3 separate regions of the Homo sapiens genome follow, and regions 1 and 2 are each linked to region 3. Evidence: fine-mapped expression QTL. A gene starts in region 3. Each other region holds a variant in brackets. All regions are shown on one strand. Distances are between the middles of the regions. Region 1 overlaps OCLN (occludin). Region 2 has its middle 29 kb from the start of OCLN. Region 3 holds the start of OCLN (occludin).

What was found.
Region 1: its variant is fine-mapped to the expression of OCLN in whole blood (TOPMed, PIP above 0.99).
Region 2: its variant is fine-mapped to the expression of OCLN in whole blood (TOPMed, PIP above 0.99).

What each region holds. Positions count from the first base shown.
Region 1 is chr5:69,512,166-69,519,130 of GRCh38, forward strand. It overlaps OCLN (occludin), which reads left to right. Exons shown (of 9, transcript NM_001205254.2): 4 at 1,783-1,944. Among named protein-coding and RNA genes, the nearest start is that of OCLN, 23 kb to the left of the region's middle. RefSeq lists an enhancer at 4,946-5,827. The variant A/T (reference allele first, on the strand shown) is at 4,176.
Region 2 is chr5:69,460,561-69,467,525 of GRCh38, forward strand. No RefSeq gene overlaps it. Among named protein-coding and RNA genes, the nearest start is that of OCLN, 29 kb to the right of the region's middle. RefSeq lists a silencer at 2,020-2,188. The variant C/T (reference allele first, on the strand shown) is at 3,752.
Region 3 is chr5:69,489,673-69,496,500 of GRCh38, forward strand. It overlaps OCLN (occludin), which reads left to right and starts at 3,118. Exons shown (of 9, transcript NM_001205254.2): 1 at 3,118-3,228.

The DNA of each region.
Region 1 (6,965 bases), 23 kb after region 3:
ATTTAATTTTTCTATAGTTTCATAATTTTAGCTTTTACAGTTAGGTCTGTGATTCATGTTGTGTTAATTTTGGGCATGATGGAAGCAAGGGTTCTGAAAGCTTTCGCATGTTTATATGCAGTTGTCTCAGTGTTACTTGTTGAAAGGACTGTTCCTCCACTAAGTTTTCTTCATGCCTTTGTCAAAAATGAATTGATCATAAATGTGGACATTTATTTCTGGGCTCTCAGTTCAGCTGCATTAATCATATGTCCTAATGCCAGTACCATACTGTCTTGATTACTGTAACTTTATAGTAAGTTTTGAAATTGTGGAGTGGGAGTTCTCCAACTTTGTTCTTCAAGACTGTTTTGGCTAGATTCTGGATTCCTTGCATTTCCATATGGATTTTAAGATCAGCATGTCAATTTTGGAAAAAAATGCCAGCTAGGATTTTGAAGGGTTATATTGAATCTGTAGGTCAATTTTGGATGTATTGTCATCTTTACAATTACAAGTCTTCTGATTCATGAACGTAAGATTCTTTTGATTTATGTAGGTCTTGTTAAACTTCTTTTAATAGTGTTTTATAGTTTTCAGAGTGTAAGTTAGTATGTTTAAAAGCTAAGCAAGTGATTCAAATGTGCAGGTTGGAGTTGAGAAACCTACTTTAGTAACCATGAGTCATACTGATTATATTAATATCTGAAATGTTTCTGAGTTACTGATCTTTTTTCCCTTGTTTTTCCTTTTTTCTTACACTAACTCAGGAGTTCCCATTCCTGAATGAGTCACTCCTTTGGAGTTAGACCTCTAGTATCTGTCTACCATTATTTAGAAGACTGAAGGTTTTCCCTGCAGACGTAGGTTTTCACAGTGCTCGTTGTTGCCATTTAGACATGTCCATGGTAGATAGGGACTGAGGGTTGGTACTCCTATCCTACCACACCCCTATCCCTCTTAGTTCTCTTACTACTTACTCTTTGAAAAATGATGTCACTGTCAAGACAGCTGGAAGGAGAGCCTCTTGTTCCCATTAGCAGACATCCAGGGTAGAGGCCTGATATTTCCCTCAACTTCAAGTGCCTCCCAGGCCAATATACCATTTAATATCCTATCACCACTGGGAGAACTGTTAAGAGTAGGAAGTTTCTTTGTTACAGGGCCCTTTCTAGTAGTATGCAAGACTCCTGAAACAGAGAAACCTGCCAGACCAAATCAATCATTAGTCAATTTGCTATTTATAGCTTGATTAGATCCATGTCTTCATCATTTTTGGTAAGATAGAGATCTATGGACAGAAATTTACATTCAGTGTAAAAAGGCTTGCCAAGCATATGTTTTGAACAAGATTACAAGCATGATTGGCTATTTCAAAGCTGTGAATACTTTTGAGAGTAGCATTTTTCAGGCCCTTTAGAAGTATACCAATGATTGAGTTACTTTACTGGCCATTCTCGTAGGTGCACAAAGCTTGGCCCGTAGGTGTACAAGCTTTGGAACTAGTTTTTTACAGCTCTGAAATGAGGGTGATGATTGATAGTTCCTAACATTAGGCATTTTCTGAGGATTGAGTCAAGCAGTATGTACGTGTGTGTACATTTGCTGGCCTTAGCCCAGTTAGTGTGGGTTAGGTTTTATGATATGTCTGAAATGTAACTATTTGCTTCAGTTTTCTATCAATTAAACCACATGGATTTAGTAGGGCCTTAGGGTAGATAAGGGTTTTAATAATATGTAGAGGGTGAATTGTGATTAAGCAATTAAAATCTAATTATGCCAATATTTTCCACTCCTTTTTAGGCCATTGCCATTGTACTGGGGTTCATGATTATTGTGGCTTTTGCTTTAATAATTTTCTTTGCTGTGAAAACTCGAAGAAAGATGGACAGGTATGACAAGTCCAATATTTTGTGGGACAAGGAACACATTTATGATGAGCAGCCCCCCAATGTCGAGGAGTGGGTAAGTGTTAAAAAATAACTTTACATCTTTTATTAAAGCCCCAAATTTGTGTCTGAATTTTTAGTGCTTTGTTAAACTTTATTCTTAGAATTAATGTTTGTATATGTTGCAAAGGTTGTTGCATTGGTTTTTACTCAGAATTTTAAGAGGATGGGCTAAGTGGAAATGGTTTTACTAAAAGGTGAAAATCAGATTTCCATTTTCAAGGAGTGAATCTTGGTTTTGAAAAGAAATGGCTTCTAAAAAAATCATGCAGAAAGAACTTGGCCTTTGCAAAACAAAAACTACTTCTTCCCTCTACTCCCTTTTATTTTTCTGCTTATCATTTTGGAGATAAACAGAAACCATTGCCAAAGGTGCTCTCGTGGGTCAAGATTGGCAAGAGTGTTTTTGGAATAGCAGGTGGCAGGCCTTTTAAACTTTTTTTTTTTTTTATTGATCATTCTTGGGTGTTTCTCACAGAGGGGGATTTGGCAGGGTCATAGGACAATAGTGGAGGGAGGGTCAGCAGATAAACAAGTGAACAAAGGTCTCTGGTTTTCCTATGCAGAGGACCCTGCGGCCTTCTGCAGTGTTTGTGTCCCTGGGTACTTGAGATTAGGGAGTGGTGATGACTCTTAACGAGCATACTGCCTTCAAGCATCTGTTTAACAAAGCACATCTTGCACCACTCTTAATCCATTTAACCCTGAGTGGACACAGCACATGTTTCAGAGAGCACAGGGTTGGGGGTAGGGTCACCGATCAACAGGATCACAAGGCAGAAGAATTTTTCTTAGTACAGAACAAAATGAAAAGTCTCCCGTGTCTACCACTTTCTACACAGACATGGCAACCATCCGATTTCTCAATCCTTTCCCCGCCTTTCCCCCCTTTCTATTCCACAAAACCGCCATTGTCATCATGGCCCTTTCTCAATGAGCTGTTGGGTACACCTCCCAGACGGGGTGGTGGCTGGGCAGAGGGGCTCCTCACTTCCCAGTAGGGGCGGCCGGGCAGAGGCGCCCCTCACCTCCTGGACCGGGCGGCTGGCCGGGCGGGGGGCTGACCCCCCCACCTCCCTCCCGGACGGGGCGGCTGGCCGGGCAGAGGGGCTCCTCACTTCCCAGTAGGGGCGGCCGGGCAGAGGCGCCCCTAACCTCCCGGATGGGGCGGCTGGCCGGGCGGGGGGCTGACCCCCCCACCTCCTTCCCGGATGGGGCGGCTGGCCGGGCAGAGGGGCTCCTCACTTCCCAGTAGGGGCGGCCGGGCAGAGGGGCCCCTCACCTCCCAGACAGGGCGGCTGGCCGGGCAGGGGGCTGACCCCCCTACCTCCCTCCCAGACGGGGCGGCTGGCCGGGCAGAGGGGCTCCTCACTTCCCAGTAGGGGCGGCCGGGCAGAGGCGCCCCTCACCTCCCGGACGGGGCGGCTGGCCGGGCGGGGGGCTGACCCCCCCCCACCTCCCTCCCGGACGGGGCGGCTGGCCGGGCGGGGGGCTGACCCCCCCACCTCCCTCCCGGACGGGGCGGCTGGCCGGGCGGGGGGCTGACCCCCCCACCTCCCTCCCGGATGGGGTAGCTGCCGGGCAGAGACGCTCCTCACTTCCCAGACAGAGTGGCTGCCGGGCGGAGGGGCTCCTCACTTCTCATATGGGGCGGTTGCCAGGCGGAGGGTCTCCTCACTTCTCAGACGGGGCGGCTGGGCAGAGACGCTCCTCACCTCCCAGACGGGGTCGCGGCTGGGTAGAGGCGCTCCTCACATCCCAGACGGGGTGGCGGGGCAGAGGCGCTCCCCACATCTTAGACGATGGGCGGCCGGGCAGAGACGCTCCTCACTTCCTAGATGGCATGGGGGCCGGGAAGAGGCGCTCCTCACTTCCTAGATGGGATGGCGGCCGGGCAGAGACGCTCCTCACTTTCCAGACTGGGTAGCCAGGCAGAGGGGCTCCTCACGTCCCAGACGATGGGCGGCCAGGCAGAGACGCTCCTCACTTCCCAGACGGGGTGGCGGCCGGGCAGAGGCTGCAATCTTGGCACTTTGGGAGGCCAAGGCAGGCGGCTGGGAGGTGGAGGTTGTAGCGAGCCGAGATCACGCCACTGCACTCCAGCCTGGGCACCATTGAGCACTGAGTGAACCAGACTCCGTCTGCAATCCCGGCACCTTGGGAGGCCGAGGCTGGCGGATCAGTCGCAGTTCGGAGCTGGAGACCAGCCCGGCCAACACAGCGAAACCCCGTCTCCACCAAAAAAAT[A/T]AGAAAACCAGTCAGGCGTGGTGGCGCGCGCCTGCAATCGCAGGCACTCGGCAGGCTGAGGCAGGAGAATCAGGCAGGGAGGCTGCAGTGAGCCGAGATGGCAGCAGTACAGTCCAGCTTCGGCTCGGCATCAGTGGGAGACCGTGGAAAGAGAGGGAGAGGGAGACCGTGGGGAGAGGGAGAGGGGGGAGAGGGAGAGGGCAAAACTTTTGACATAGATAACAGCATGACAAACCACAGTGACTAATTCTGAGTTAACATTATGAAATACTTCAGTGAGGCAAAGACAGATTAGAAAAATTTCCTTTTAAAAATATATACTATTAATCTTACCAAGCTTCCTATATGATGTGATTTGCTGAAAGCCTGGAAAGTTCCTCTTTAAAGATGCCTCCCAAATGAGTGTTAGTAAACTGTTTTTAGAGCTTTTTAGAGGCCAGGTGTGGTGGCTCACACTTGGAATCCCAGCACTTAGGGAGGCCAAGGTGGAAGGATCACTTGAGTCCAGGAGTTTGAGAACAACCTAGGCAACATAATGGGACCCTGTCTCTACAAAAAATAAAAAAAAAATTAGCTGGGCATGATGATGTATGCCTGTAGTCCCAGCTACTCAGGAGGCTGAGGTGATAGAATCACTGGAGCATGGGAGGTTGAAGCTGCAGTGAGCTGTTATTCTGCCACTGGCACTCTTGCCTGGATGGCAGAGTGAGACCCTGTCTCGGAAAAAAATAAAAATGAAAAGATGTTTGGAGTGAAACTTTTTCTAAGAAATCCTGTTAGGGTCCTGTTAGAAGCTACCTCAGAAACTGACATCACAGGGTTCTTTGAGCAGATTGATTTATTGTCATGAAGGTATGGCCACAGGTTCCCAGGAAGGTTTATTTTGGCCACTGGGAGTGGGGTGGCTAAAGATGGATGCTGGCTGCTGCTAGTCAGGTCTGGGGTAAAGACATTAATATATATATATATATATATTTTTTTTTTTTTTGAGACGGCTTCTGGCTCTGTCGTTCAGGCTGGAGTACAGTGGTGCAATATTGGCTCACTGCAACCTCCGCCTCCCGGGTTCAAGAGATTCTCCTGCCTTGGCCTCCCGAGTAGCTAGGACTATAGGTGCATACCACCATGCCTGACTAATTTTTTTGTATTTTTAGGAGAGATGGGGTTTCACCACGTTGGCCAGGCTGGTCTCGAACTCCTGACCTCAAGTGATCTGCCTGCCTTGGCCTCCCAAAGTGCTGGGATTATAGGCAAGACAATATCTTGAAGGCTTAGCTCTAACATTCTGTAAGTCTGATTTTTAAGGAAATCTAGGAAGATAGATGAAATTTTTTTCTGGTTAATTAAGGAGCAAAAATGAAGCAGTCTTAGGAAAGCCAGGAAGGCTGTGGTATGTATTCACCACTGAGACGATAGTTCTTATGTCCCTGCCCTTGACTTGAAGCCCTGTTTTTTTTTTCCCTCACTTTAAAGTGTGAAGGTGTTAGGAAGTGTTTTCTTTCGACATTTACCTCCAGGCAAGGCCACTTGTAGCTGGAATAGGACAGGTCTATATTATGAGCTATGAAGTAAATGTTTCGCTGAGAGTTTCTGGGTGTGTTAGTTTTCGTTGGCAGTTAGATTTGTTTACTTAAGGTTTCAAGAGGCTTAAAAACAACAAACCCGACTCAAGGGAGACCAATGCCAGTAATATTAGAGTCCCAGTGAACTTTGGCCTCTCATCTGATTTTACTGTCATGAAGGTTTAATCAGTTCTAGTTGCTTTTGATAATTTGGCAAAAGATAGCTGTTGTAACTTATGGAGGTGATGATGATTAAGGTGAAAGAACTACTTAGCTTTTAAGAAGGTATTATTTTAATAAAATTCCTCCTTGAACCTCTGGAAATTTGATAGCCTGTGGGTTGTTGCATGTGGACTTCATTGTTTCTCTCTAGTAACAAGTATTTTCATTGTATGTAAAAGAATTGTCTGTTGAATAGCAGATATATGATTTTGCCCAAACTAATGTTTTATGTGATTCTTAACCAGAGGCAAATTCCTCATTTCTTTTCCTCTGCCCTTCAGTTTTTTGAACTGAAATGCCTCAGAAAGCCTATTTAAAATAAATTATTTGGAGGTGGTTTAACCACAGATATTTTGCCTTTCTTTCTATTCTCCCCTCACCTGCCCAAGTTCATGTCGCGGAATTCAATACCACGTTCTCATTATTTCCTTAATTGATGGAACAGGCAGATGTAGCCTGTTACTCTCATTTCTGCCTGATTAGTTTCACCCTGATAATGTGGCCATCGCTGTGGAATTGTGTCATCCTGCATCTAAACTGTTCACAGTGGAGTAGATTAGGGAGTTTTCTTCCTTTTGGTCATGAGAAATTAATATCAAAACAATCTCTACTTAAAATAGTGGATGAGAATCTAGAATTAACTACTTGCACTAAAGGAGAATTAAAATTTGGGTTTGATTGATTGCAAAGAGCTGAGACAGGTTACTCCCCATATAGCTAATAATGGCTGATTCGGGGGGAAAAGAAAAACTCATGTCTGTAATCCCAGTACTTGCGAGGCCAAGGAGGATCACTTGAGCCCAGGAGTTTAAGACCATCTGGGGCAAGAAGGCAAGACCCTATCTCTACAAAAAATTTAAAAAATTAGCCGGACGTGGGCACAGGTGCCTGTAGTCCCAGCTGCTTGGGAAGCTGAAGTGGGAGGATTGCTGGAGCCTGGGAGGTCAAGGCTGCAGTGAGGCATGATCTCGCCACTGCACTCCAGCCTGGGTGACAGAGTGAGACC
Region 2 (6,965 bases), 29 kb before region 3:
ATCCCAACATTTTGGGAGGCCGAGGCGGGCCGACCACCTGAGGTCAGGAGTTCGAGACCAGCCTGGTGGTGGGCGCCTGTCATTCTAGCTACTCAGGAGGCTGAGGAAGGAGAATCTCTTGAACCCAGGAGGCAGAGGTTGCAGTGAGCTGAGATCACATCACTGAACTCCAGTCTGGGAGACAGAGCAAGAGTCCGTCTCAAAAAAAAAAAAAAAAAGAATAACAAACTAACACATCTTGAAGTCGAATTCCTTGAAAATTATGGCCTAGAAAGCCTACTTGGCTGGGCCTGATGCTCACGCCTATAATCCCAGCACTTTGGAAGCCGAGGCAGGTGGATCACCTGAGGTCAGGAGTTTGAGACCAGCCTGACCAACATGGAGAAACCCCATCTCTATAAAAATACAAAAATTAACTGGGCGTGGTGGCACGCACCTGTAATCCCAGCTACTCAGGAGGCTGAGGCGGGAGAATCGCTTAAACCTGGGAGGCGGAGGTTGCAGTGAGCCGAGATCATGCTATTGTACTCCAGACTGGGCAACAGAGCGAGACTCCGTGTCAAAAAAAAAATGCTCATGCAAATGAGCATCACAAAAATTATACAGTTGGCTAAAGGAAACACCAAATTGATAATAATGAAGCTAAACTAATAATTGACATTTTAAAGGAAAGACTAAGCCAAGCTAATACCTAACGAGCTGTCTGAGTCAACACATAAAGTACTGATAACATACCTATCTAACTAGAAAATTGAGGAATCCCAAGGATGTAGGTATTTGCATAGTGGGAGCTTCACATAGTTACCAGCAATTCAACTTTTCAACTTTTCTTTCCTTTTTTTGAGACGGTGTCTCACTCTGTTGCCCAGACTGGAGTGCAGTGGCATGATCTCAGCTCACTGTAACCTCCACCTCCTAGGTTCAAGCAATTCTCCTGCCTCAGCCTCCCGAGTAGCTGGGATTCCAGGCGCCCGCCACCACACCCGGCTAATTTTTGTATTTTTAGTAGAGACAGGGTTTCACCATGTTGGTCAGGCTGGTCTTGAACTTCTGACCTCAAGTGATCTGCCCACCTCGGCCTCCCAAAGTGCTAGGATTTCAGGCATGAGCCACCACACCCGGCCAGCTCAACTTTTCAGTACAATGCCAAATCAATTCCTCTGTCAACTTAAGTGCTAATACCCCAGGGTTTTAGTTTTTGTTTTTGTCTTAGAAACGGGGTCTTACTATGTTGTCCAGGCTGGTCTTGAACTCCTGGGCTCAAGTGATCTTCCCAGCTTGGCCTCCCAAAGTGCTGGGATTGCAGGCATGAGCCACCACAGCCGGCCTAATACCCTAGGTGTTGGATAGCAAAGACATGTTATCCTTAGTAACTCCTGAAGAAAGTTACTAGGAGTCCTTAGTGCAATATAAAAATTTACTTACAGAAAAGAAAAAACTGCTGCATTGGTTCATAAGAACCAAGGAAAGCACTTCCAATTTGGAATCAGTGGGCTGCCCCTTGGGAGGTGCACTCGGAGAACATAAAGCTAACCCCGAGAAGGATGAGGGAGGTGCGTCCTCCAAGATTTTGAAATCTGAGTGTACAATGTGAGGAGAGGGAGCAGAGGTTGTAAGAGGAGAGGGATGACTCCACAGATCCTTTGAGAGAGAGGAAAGTGATCTACATTTTCTCAGCAAAAGCAGAGCTATCTTCAGCCAAGTTAGAAAGACTGTGAGGACCAGGGCAGTTTGAGATTTATGAAGTGCCCTTTAAAATTTTTAATTTTTTTAAATTTTTATTTATTTATTTATTAAAATTTAAAATTAAACAATTTAAAAACTTTTAAATTTTAAAAATTTAAAAAGTATTTTTGGCTCTTGAGGAATTTTCTGCTGCATTAAAGACAAGGGAATATTTACATTTAAATAACAACTCAAGAAATACTAAGGCAGGGCACAGTGGCTCACATCTGTAATTCCTGCATTTATGGGAGGCCAAGGCAGGAGTTTCGCTTGAGCCAAGAGCTTGAGACCAGTGTGGACAACAGAGCAAGACCTGGCTCTACAAAAAATGTTTTAAAAATATTAGCCAGAGGCCGGGCGCAGTGGCTCACGCCTGTAATCCCAGCACTTTGGGAGGCTGAGGCGGGTAGATCACAAGGTCAGGAGTTCAAGACCAGCCTGACCAACATGGTGGAACCCCATCTCTACTAAAAATACAAAAATTAGCTGGGCGTGGTGGCGTGCACCTGTAATCCCAGCTACTTGGGAAGCTGAGACAGAAAAATCGCTTGAACCCGGGAGGCGGAGGTTGCAGTGAGCCGAGATGGCACCACTGCACTCCAGCCTGGGCAACAAAGCAAGACTCCATCTCAAAAATATATATATATATGAAATATATAATATATATAATATATTATATGAATATATAATATATATATTATATGAAATATATAATATATATATTATATGAATATATAATACATATACTATATTATATGAAATATATAATACATATACTATATTATATGAATATATAATACATATACTGTATTATATGAATATATAATACATATACTGTATTATATGAATATATAATACATATACTGTATTATATGAATATATAATACATATACTGTATTATATGAATATATAATACATATACTATATGAATATATAATACATATACTATATTATATGAATATATAATACATATACTATATTATATGAATATATAATACATATACTATATTATATGAATATATAATACATATACTATATTATATGAATATATAATACATATACTATATTATATGAATATATAATACATATACTATATTATATGAATATATAATACATATACTATATTATATGAATATATAATACATATACTATATTATATGAATATATAATACATATACTATAGTATATGAATATATAATACATATACTATAGTATATGAATATATAATACATATACTATAGTATATGTATATAATACATATACTATAGTATATGTATTATATATTCATATAATATATTATATATATATTCATATAATATATTATATGTATATAATACATATATTATATGTATATAATACATATATTATATGTATATAATACATATATTAGATGTATATAATACATATATTAGATGTATATAATACATATATTAGATGTATATAATACATATATTAGATGTATATAATACATATATTAGATGTATATAATACATCTAATATATTAGATGTATATAATACATATAATATATTAGATGTATATAATACATATAATATATTAGATGTATATATTAGCCAGATGTGGTGGAGCAAGCCTGTAGTCCCAGCTACTCTGGAGGCTGAGGCAGGAGGCAGAAGGATCACTTGAGCCCAGGAGTTCCAGGTTGCAGTGAGCCATGATCTCACCACTGCCCTCCAGCCTGGGCAACAGAGCAAGATCCTGTGAAAGAAAGAGAGAAAGAGAGAGAGAGACAGAATGAGAAAGAGAAGGAAGTACTATACTTTTACATGTATATAGTCCTTAGTCCTTATCATTTTTTTTTTTTTAAGATGGAGTCTTGCTCTGTCACCCAGGCTGGAGTGCAGTGGCACAATCTCGGCTCACTGCAACCTCCACCTCCCAGTTTCAAGTGATTCTCCTGCCTCAGCCTCCCGAGTAGCTGGGACTACAGTTGCCCACCACCATGCCTGGCTAAGTTTTTGTATTTTTAGTAGAGACGAGGTTTCACCATGTTGGTCAGGATGGTCT[C/T]GATCTCTTGACCTCGTGGTCCACCCGGCTTGGCCTCCCAAAGTGCTGGGATTACAGGCGTGAGCCACCGCTCCCGGCCCTATCCTTTCTTAAATACTTTCACATAACTCATCTCAGGATTGACAGACCTTGATAGCGCCTTAAATCCTGGAGAGAGAGAATTCTGAAGAGGCTACAATAGGATGGAATAGTCAGAACATTTTTGAAAAAAAACAGGTAAGACTGCAACCAGGCATGGTGGTTCATGCCTGTAATACCAGCATTTTGGGAGAACAAGGCGGGAGGATCACTGTAACCCAGGAGTTCAAGGCTGTGGTGAGCTATGATCACACCACGGCCCTCTAGCCTGGGTGACAGAGTCAGACTCCGTCTCTAAAAAAATAAAAATAAGGCCAAGGCGGGCGGATCATCTGAGGTCGGGAGTTCAAGACCAGCCTGACCAACATGGAGAAACCCTGTCTCTACTAAAAATACAAAATTAGCTGGGTGTGGTGACGCATGCCTGTAATCCCAGCTACTCGGGAGGCTGAGGCAGGAGAATTGCTTGAACCCGGGAGGCAGAGGTTGCGGTGAGCCGAGATCACGCCATTGCACTCCAGCTTGGGCAACAAGAGCATAACTCTGTCTCAAAAATAAATAAATATTAAAAAATAAAAATAGGCCGGGGTGCAGTGGCTCACGCCTGTAATCTCAGCACTTTGGGAGGCCAAGGTGGGTGGATCACGTGAGGTCAAGAGTTCAAGACCAGCCTTCCCAACATGGTGAAACCCTGTCTCTACTAAAAATACAAAAATTAGCCAGGTGTGGTGGCGTGCCCCTGTAATCCCAGCTACTCAGGTAGCTTAGGTGGGAGAATTGCTTGAACCCAGGAGGTGGAGGCTGCAGTGATCCGAGATCTTGCCGCTGCACTCCAGCCTGGGTGACAGAGCAAGACCCCATCAAAAAATAATAATAAATAATAATAAATAAAAATAAAGGTAAACAAATATCTCATTTAAGTTTACTCTGTTACCTAATATATTAGAAAGTCTTATCTTAAAGTTTTGTTGTCTTGAATCTTTTCTGTGGGGTCATAATTAAAATAAATCTTCCAACCCCTAAGTAAGTTCATATCTCCTATTGTTCAGGTAAGATAATTTTGAAGTCAACAGATTGTTGCTCTCTTACCTGACACAGCTGGGATCAGTAATTAGAATGTCAATTCAAAAAAGTAGATTAAAGCTAAACATCAAAAAGTGACATATGGGTGCCATAGTTTGTCTTAATTTTTTTTCATTTTTCATTTTTCATTAATTAATTTTTTTTAGAGACAGAGTCTCGCTCTGTTACCCAGGTTGGAGTGCAGTGGTGTGAACACGGCTCACTGCAGCCTTGACCTTGTGGGATTAAGTGATCCTCCCACCTCAGGATCCTGAGTAGCTAGGACCACAGGTGTGTGCCACCACGCCTGGCTAATTTTTAATTTTTTCATAGAGAGGGGGTCTTGCCATGCTGCCCAGGCTGGTCTCAAACTCCTGGGCTCACAGGATCCTCCAGCCTCAGCCTCCGAAAGTGTTGGGATTACAGGCGTGAGCCACCCTACCTAGCCAACATTTTTTTTTTCTAAAGCAACATCATTATGAGTCTTTTAACAATTAACTTGATTTTTATAGAAATACCTTTTTGTTTGTTTGTTTGTTTGTTTGGGACAGAGTCTCACTACGTCGCCCAGGCTGGAGTGCAATGGTGCGATCATAGCTCACTGTAACCTCTCCCTCCCAGGTTCAAAAGATTCTCCTGCTTCAGCTTCCTGAGTAGCTGGAATTACAGGTGCATGCCACCACACCTGACTAATTTTTGTATTTTTAGTAGAGACAGGATTTCATCATGTTGGCCTGGCTTGTCTCAAACTCCTGACCTCGTGATGCACCCACCTCCACCTCCCAAAGTGCTGGGATTACAGACATGAGCCACCGTGCCCAGCCTAGAAACACCTTTCTGTTGGGGTCATCATATTTTATTTTATGTTATTTGTGTGGTTTTTGTTTGTTTGTTTTTATGGCAGGGTCTCACTCTGTAGCCCAGGCTGGAATGCAGTGGCATTGAGAATTGAAGCCAGCTGGGCTTCTGGGTTGGGTGGGAACTTGGAGAACTTTTCTGTCTAGCTAGAGGATTGTAAACACACCAATCAGCACTCTGTGTCTAGCTAAAGGTTTGTAAACACACCAATCAGTACTCTAAATATGCACCAATCAGCGCTCTGTGTCTAGCTAAAGGTTTGTAAATGCACCAATCAACACTCTGTAAAAATGCACCAATCAGTGCTCTGTGACTAGCTAAAGGTTTGTAAACACACCAATCAGCACTCTGTAAAAATGGACCAATCAGCACTCTGTAAAATGGACCAATTAGCACTCTGTAAAATGGACCAATCAGCAGGACGTTGGCAGGGCCAAATAAGGGAATAAAAGCTGGCCACCGGAGCCAGCAGCAGCAACCAGTTCGGGTCCCCTTCCAGGCTGTGGAAGGTTTGTTCTTTTGCTCTTCACAATAAATCTTGCTGCTGCTCCCTCTGGGTCCGCACTACCTTTATGAGTTGTAACACTCACTGCGAAGGTCTGCAGCTTTGCTCCTGAAATCAGTGAGACCACGAACCCACCGGGAGGAACAAACAACGCTGGATGCGCCACATTTAAGAGCTGTAACACTCACTGCGAAGGTCTGCAGCTTCACTCCTGAAGTCAAGCTAGACCACGAGCCCACCGGAAGGAAGAAACTCTGGACATATCTGAACATCTGAAGGAACAAACTCCGGACACACTACGTGTAAGAACTGTAACACTCACCACGAGGGTCTGCAGCTTCATTCTTGAAGTTAGCGAGACCAAGAATCCACCGTAAGGAACCAATTCCGGACACAGCATGATCTCAGCTCACTGCAACCTCCACTTCCCAGGTTCAAGTGATTCTCCTGCCTCAGCCTCCTGAGTAGCTGGGTTTACAGGTGCATACGATCATGCCTGACTAATTTTTGTGTTTTTGGTAGAGACGGGGTTTCACCATGTTGGCCAGGCTGGTTTTGAACTGCTGACCTCAGGTGATCCACCCACTTTGGCCTATCCAAGTACTGGGATTATAGGCCTGAGCCACAGCAGCTGGCCCGCATCATATTTTATCATTTAAATAATATTTAATTAAATCATACACATACGTACACACATGTAGTAGCAAGTAC
Region 3 (6,828 bases):
ACAGACTTATAAAGACAGTATTGTTTATTATCATCTCAAATTTACGGTGGAAAAAAATGAACCTTACATAGTTTAATTTCCTTTAGTCCTACCCAGCTACCAAGTAGCAACACTGGAATTTGAACTGAGATTTCTGACACCATAATCTGAGCTCTTAAGTTTCTCTTTTACACATAGAAAAGGAGAAACAAATTGTCTTTTCATCTTATCCATTTGACTGCAGGTAAAGTCAACAAGTTTCTAATCATGGGGTTCTGAAAATAATATTTACATTGCTCTGAGTCACGGGGATTTTCATCAAATAATATTCAATAGTGGATACTACTCAATACTACTGTGAGTTGCCAAGAAGGAATATTTGGTAAAAAATATAGTAATTAAATTTTGCTATAATTTATGATTATGTAACATGATTAAATTGAGCATGGCATCATTTAACATCCAACAAATTTTGTTTTGGTATTGAAGAATGATGTGTTTAAGTTTTAAGGCTGGATTTTCTTTCTAGACACTTTCAACTATGAAATATACACAATATTGGACAATAGTTAACCGTTCTTTTGATGTTGTTGTTTAGAAAATTAATCTCAAGCGAATAAAATAGAATTCATACAATTAATGAATCCTATTATTCCATATGGATGAACTCAGAACTAACTAGAAAGTAAGTTTCACAGAGATTTTTGAGTTTTGTTCACTCGTGTGTGTACAGATTAGGCACTCAGAAAATAGTTGAAGGAATGAATTGGGAAAGCAAATAGAATATGAAAGCCTTCTACCCAACACAACATGTCTTTGAGTTTAGGTTTAGGGTGGGAATAAGAAAAATAACATGATATGCATAAGTTATCTTAAAATGATAAAAAGTTTAATTTAAAAACCTAATTTACCAAGAGAACCGAAAACATATGTCCACACAAAAACTTGTACACAAATGTTCATAGTAACATTATTCATAACATCCCCAAAGGAGAAACAACCCAAATGTTCATCAACAGATGAATGATTAAACGAAATGTGATACATCGATACAATGGAATATTATTCAGTTATAAAAAGGAATGAAGTACCAATACATACTACATCATGGATGAACCTTTAAAATATTATGCTAAGTGAAAGAAGACAGACACAAAGGGCACATATTGTATTATCCATTCATATAAAATGTCCAGAATAGGCAAATTAATAGAGACAGAAAGTACATTAGTGGTTGCCGAGGGATGAGGGGAGAGGGGAAATGGGGAGTGACTATTAATGGGCATGGGGTTTCTTTTGGGGGCGATTAAAATGGAATTAGATGGTGGTGATGGTTGTACAATCTGGTGAGTATACTAAAACCCACTGAATTGTACGTGCCCTTTAAAAGGGTGAATTTTATGGTATGTGAACTCTCTTTTATAAAGTGGAAAAAAACTCCTAAGATCTCTTCAGAACATGTCAAAATACATTATAAAATAATAGACATGTGTTTACAAATCTGAGAGTATTAGGAAATGTTCCCTTGTTTAATTATAAACCAAATGGAATGTTTGGAGATTTCAGTAATCTGACAGGGAACATTAAGGGGATTAACCTGACTTCCCCAGTGTTAACAATACCAATTTAAACTGCATCATTCAAAAACTACATAGTCATATTAAAGCATTTGTAGCAATGACTTCCACGAAAAAAATACCAATTAAATTAATTACCCATTAAAGCTGCCATCATCTGAAATACCTCATATTTATATAGTGCTTTTACTTCCTCAAGTATGAATTGTGCCTTAAGATCTAATGTATGGGAGAGTCACATCTCTAACCATTTAATTAAAGGTAGAGAAGTGGGTGGGATTGGATAGAAATTTATTAGCAATGCTGACATTCCAGATTGGAACACAAAGACAAGCAGGATGTAAGAAACCTAAAAGTTCGCTTTCAATGCAGATAGTTAAATGCCAAGAACTATAATTGCCACATCCTGGAGTACAATTAAAAAATATGTTGAAAAACAACCAACATACATAAAAATATACACAGTGTTAAGTGCAGACTATGAAATTTCCCTTGGAAACAGAATCCAGATCAAGAAATAGAATACAGCACCCGGAACTAAGGTGCTTTTTCGTTTTCTTAAAAAAAAAAAAAAAGTAAACCAAGTTTATTTTGCTTTTTAAGTAGTGTTGTTCTTAAAGCACTACAGGTTGGTAAACAACGTATAAGGTGCTTTTTCTCAGGCCAAAGAGCCATAATAGTTTAAATTTCCCGGTCCTCAAGAGCGGACCGGGTGGGCAGGAGAGGACCCTGGGGTGGTGATGTGTAAACTGTATTATGCACTTTAGCCTGCTGGATGGCAACTAACACCTACAGTAGTTCACCCTCATTTTAACCCCTCTAAGTAATTGTCTCTTATTCTGAATCTAGAGATTCAGAAACAGCGCCAATGTTTACACACGACTTTTGAAATTTTCCCAGGAGTCTTTCGTTGGAGCAATACATCTAGATGCCTTTTTCCAGCAACAGTTTAATCAAATTCTGGAAGCAGAAAAGTGTCCTGTGAGGACGTGCCTTTCCTATCAAAGTGCTGAGTGCCTGGACCCTCTTTCCGGAGGAAACAGTCCCCTCTGGACCTCGTTCGGCCTCTCTCCATCAGACACCCCAAGGTTCCATCCGAAGCAGGCGGAGCACCGAACGCACCCCGGGGTGGTCAGGGACCCCCATCCGTGCTGCCCCCTAGGAGCCCGCGCCTCTCCTCTGCGCCCCGCCTCTCGGGCCGCAACGTCGCGCGGTTCCTTTAACAGCGCGCTGGCAGGGTGTGGGAAGCAGGACCGCGTCCTCCCGCCCCCTCCCATCCGAGTTTCAGGTGAATTGGTCACCGAGGGAGGAGGCCGACACACCACACCTACACTCCCGCGTCCACCTCTCCCTCCCTGCTTCCTCTGGCGGAGGCGGCAGGAACCGAGAGCCAGGTCCAGAGCGCCGAGGAGCCGGTCTAGGACGCAGCAGGTGGGACTCGCGGCGCTGGCCCGCAGGCTTCCCGCACCCCCTTCCACGTTGGTGCGCATGCCCGGGGGCAGGGCCGGTTGTAGGGAGGAGGGAAAGGAGAGGGAGAAGGGGGAGGAGACGTCCCCAGCCCAGTCCCCGGCTGAGCGCTGGCGGTCGGTGCGGCGTCAGGTGCGCCCGCCAGGTGAGCGCGCTCCCTGGCACCGTTGGCCCCCGGAGGGTCGGGCCCAGTTGCGGCGAGCGGGTGAGTGTTGGGCGCGGCGTCAGGGGCGCACGGGAGCCCGAGGGTCCCCGTGGGGGGACCGCGGCGACTATGTTAGGGGAGGTGCCGGGGGGAGGACGCTCCGCGCTGGTTTCGGTGGCAGTTTCGTCCCCGAGCTGGGACTCGTGGGAACCAGAGAGGCGCGGGTCTGCGGAGAGAGCAGCACCGGCCAACTTGGGAGGCTGCCTCCTGGGGCGAGGGGTGGCTTGGAGCCGCCGATCAAGCTTTATTCCGCGGAAACGCTGAAAGCTAGCAGTGCCTCAGCGGCGCGGGCAACTTTTCACTTTTATGGGGCACGACATTCCTGAACAGCGACGATCCTGCATCCGCTCTGGGGCTGCAGTTTGGGGGGGCGGCCTTCATGGAGAGGGATCCTGCGCCCAGCTCCTTGGGGGTCCTAAGCCTGAGGCTGCAGCGAGGCGGCTGTTCGGCGGCCCGGGCGGCTTAGATCCCGGGGGGAATTTCATTCCTTCCGCTCCCACCCCACCCCTTTGGATATCCCGGGGAGACGGGGGCTGGATTCAATCTGTGAAATATTCCAGGAGTCACGGTGTGGGCCACACTGGCTACTTCGAATCCACTTGTTGCGAGTTGTGTGAACCCGCGTCGATTTAAGCTGGGGGGCGGGGAGTTAATTTCGAGTGAGGCTGGACTTCGAGGGAAGCTGCTCACGCTTCGGATTCTCATCCGTGACCAAAAGGGCTGCCCCCAGGGGGGCGGAACTGCCTCCGGGCGGTGCCTGCCCGGCGAACGTGGGCGCGCGCTGCCTGGGAGCGCCTCGGTGCGCACGGAAGCCGGGACCCGCGCCCAGCCGGGCCACGGAGTTTGGGGACCTCCGGGACTGGGCCGGCCCCGCGCGCCAGCCATGTTGCCTGCGTCGGAGGAAGCGTGCGGGGAGCAGGGGTCGAGGGCCAAGATGGCCTCTGCGCCTAGGGGTTGGGAGCGGCGCCGAGCCCCTCGCGCTCCTCGGGAAGCCACCGGGCCCGAGGGAAAAGCCGCGGCATCCTTAGGCCGGACCCGGGGCTCGCTGGCCACACTGCCCGCTTGGGGAATTACCCTGCTCGAGGAGGAGGCGGCGGCTTTCCAGGCCAGTCAGTGTGTGGCCCTTAGGCAACAGGTGTATTATTGGGATACCTGGAAAAGAGAAACGTTTCCCATGAAGGCACTTATGGTGTTTTTTGGTGATTCTTGGTGTGATAGAAAACTAGGCGTTCCCAAGTGTAACAATAGTAACAGTAGTTCTTTTGCACTGTACATATGAGGTGCTTGTGTGTGTGTGTGTGTGTGTTTTTCCGAGACGGAGTCTGGCTCTGTCCCCCAGTGCAGTGGCATCATCTGGGCTCACTGCAACCTCTGCCTCCCGGGTTCAAGCGATTCTCCTGCTCAGCCTCCCGAATAGCTGGGATTACAGGCACCCACTAGTATGCACAGCTAATTTTTGTATTTTTAGTAGAGACAGGGTTTTGCCATTTGGTCAGGCTGGTCTCGAACTCCTGACCTCAGGTGATTCGCCCGCCTTGGCCTCCCAAAGTGCTGGGATTACAGGCGTAAGCCACCACACCCAGCCTTTATGAATATTTTCTTAGTGGTGCTTTAAAATAGACATCTTAAGTGTGTGTGGGAGGCAGAGATATTTCCTCAAACAAAGCAACACTTTTTTTTTGGTCGTTTTGCAATTTATTTAGTTATTAGGGGCCTCCTTTGTTAGGTGACGGAGCAGAGGATAGGGAGATCGGTAAGACATGATTCTCCACCTTTTGGCAGTTTCCAGGCCATTTCGGGAAATAGTGGGCAGCAGTGCCTCCTGCACGTGAGGCACTGTGGTAAAAGCATTCTGTATTTTCTCATTTAATTATCCCAACAACTCTAAAAGGCAGGCCTTAGTAGAACTCCATTTTAAAAGTGGGCAAATGCCGTGGGGGAAACGTTGCAGGTGGGCTTGCTTGCAAACTGCTTCAGCTAATATGGGAAGGAGTATCAGAAGCAGCGGTCCTTGATATTCCAGAACCAGATTTGGGGAATTTTTCTGGACTTTTCTACCATTGACTAGTAACTGTAGCCTGATACAAGATTTCCCGCATTTTGCTTGATATCAAGGTAAAATTCTTGTTTTCTTCTAAAGGTAGTGTTGGAATTACTACCTTTTCAAAATAGTATATTACTTTTAACCACATAAATGATCTGATGTAATATCTTTCATCTTCCTAGGAACCTCCCAGAAGGAAGTTTTCTTCAGTTGCATTTTAAGGCTTATTTGATTGGAATATTAATGGATCTTTTTCATCAAATTACTATTTATGGAAATAAGAGAGTAAACAGACCATGCAGATTTATGTTAGGCTTTTTGTTTTAACCCCTAGGCTTGCCGCTGTTCCGTAACCCAGTGATTCCAGTCTTGGCTGTGGTATGAATCACTTAGGGATCCTATTAAAACACAGATTCTGATTGGGAGGTCAGGAGTGGGGCCTGGGATTCTGCCTTTCTAACAGGCTCACAGGTGATTCTCAGACTGTTCTGTCTTCTTTTTCTCCCTTTCTCTTAGACTCTACGCACTTAATTACATTTGACAAACTGAAGTTGGAAAAAATAACGTTTATTGAGTGTTGTGTGAAGAACTTCAAGGCATTCACTGCTGGATTGAAATCCCAACTCTAATAATTGACTGTTGGTTTTATTAATTGAGTACTCATTGACAATCACTTTGTGCCAGGGCTAGTTCCAGCGACCAGGGATATAAATGATGGTCAAAATAGACATTTGATGTCTGGGATATGGGCATTCCAGATGCGGTGGAGATGATACCTATATTTTAGGTATGAGGGCAGAGGGGAGTTTGCTCTGAAAAAAAAAACAAGTTTTGTGTGATGGAGTGAGGGACAGGGAGGGCATCTCCCAGAAGGTGACGTCTGAGCTGAGACCTGAACAGCAGGTGTCTGTTGTGTAAAAGATCTGGGCTTTCTAGACAGGAAATTGCAAGATCAATGTCCTTTTTGGATTGACACCTTTATTGTAGACAGCAATTCTCAAAATATGTGATGTGTTTAAAAATCACCTGGAAGATTTATTAAAAATACAATTTCTGACACAGAGTCTATTACAAAATCTGCCTAACTTCAAATTTTTAGACAATTTACTAATGATGTGCCTGTAGTCTAAATCATTTAATATAAGGCACAACTTAAACTTTTTTTTTTTTTTTTGAGACAGAGTCTCGCTGTCTCCCAGGCTGGAGTGCAGTGGCACGATCTTGGCTTACTGCAAGCTCCGCCTCCCGGGTTCACACCATTCTCCTGCCTCGGCCTCCCGAGTAGTTGGGACTACAGGCGCCTGCCACCATGCCCAGCTAATTTTTTGTATTTTTAATAGAGGCGGGGTTTCACTGTGTTAGCGGGGATGGTCTCGATCTCCTGACCTCGTGATCCTCCCGTCTCGGCCCCCCAAAGTGCTGGGATTACAGGCGTGAGCCACCGCGCCCGGCCACAACTTAAACTTTTTAAAGGCAAATTGACAGTTACTGCATGTGCTCTAAAAGGAACAGACTTCTCTTAAATACAATAAAGTTTATTTTTCACTTATTGACAG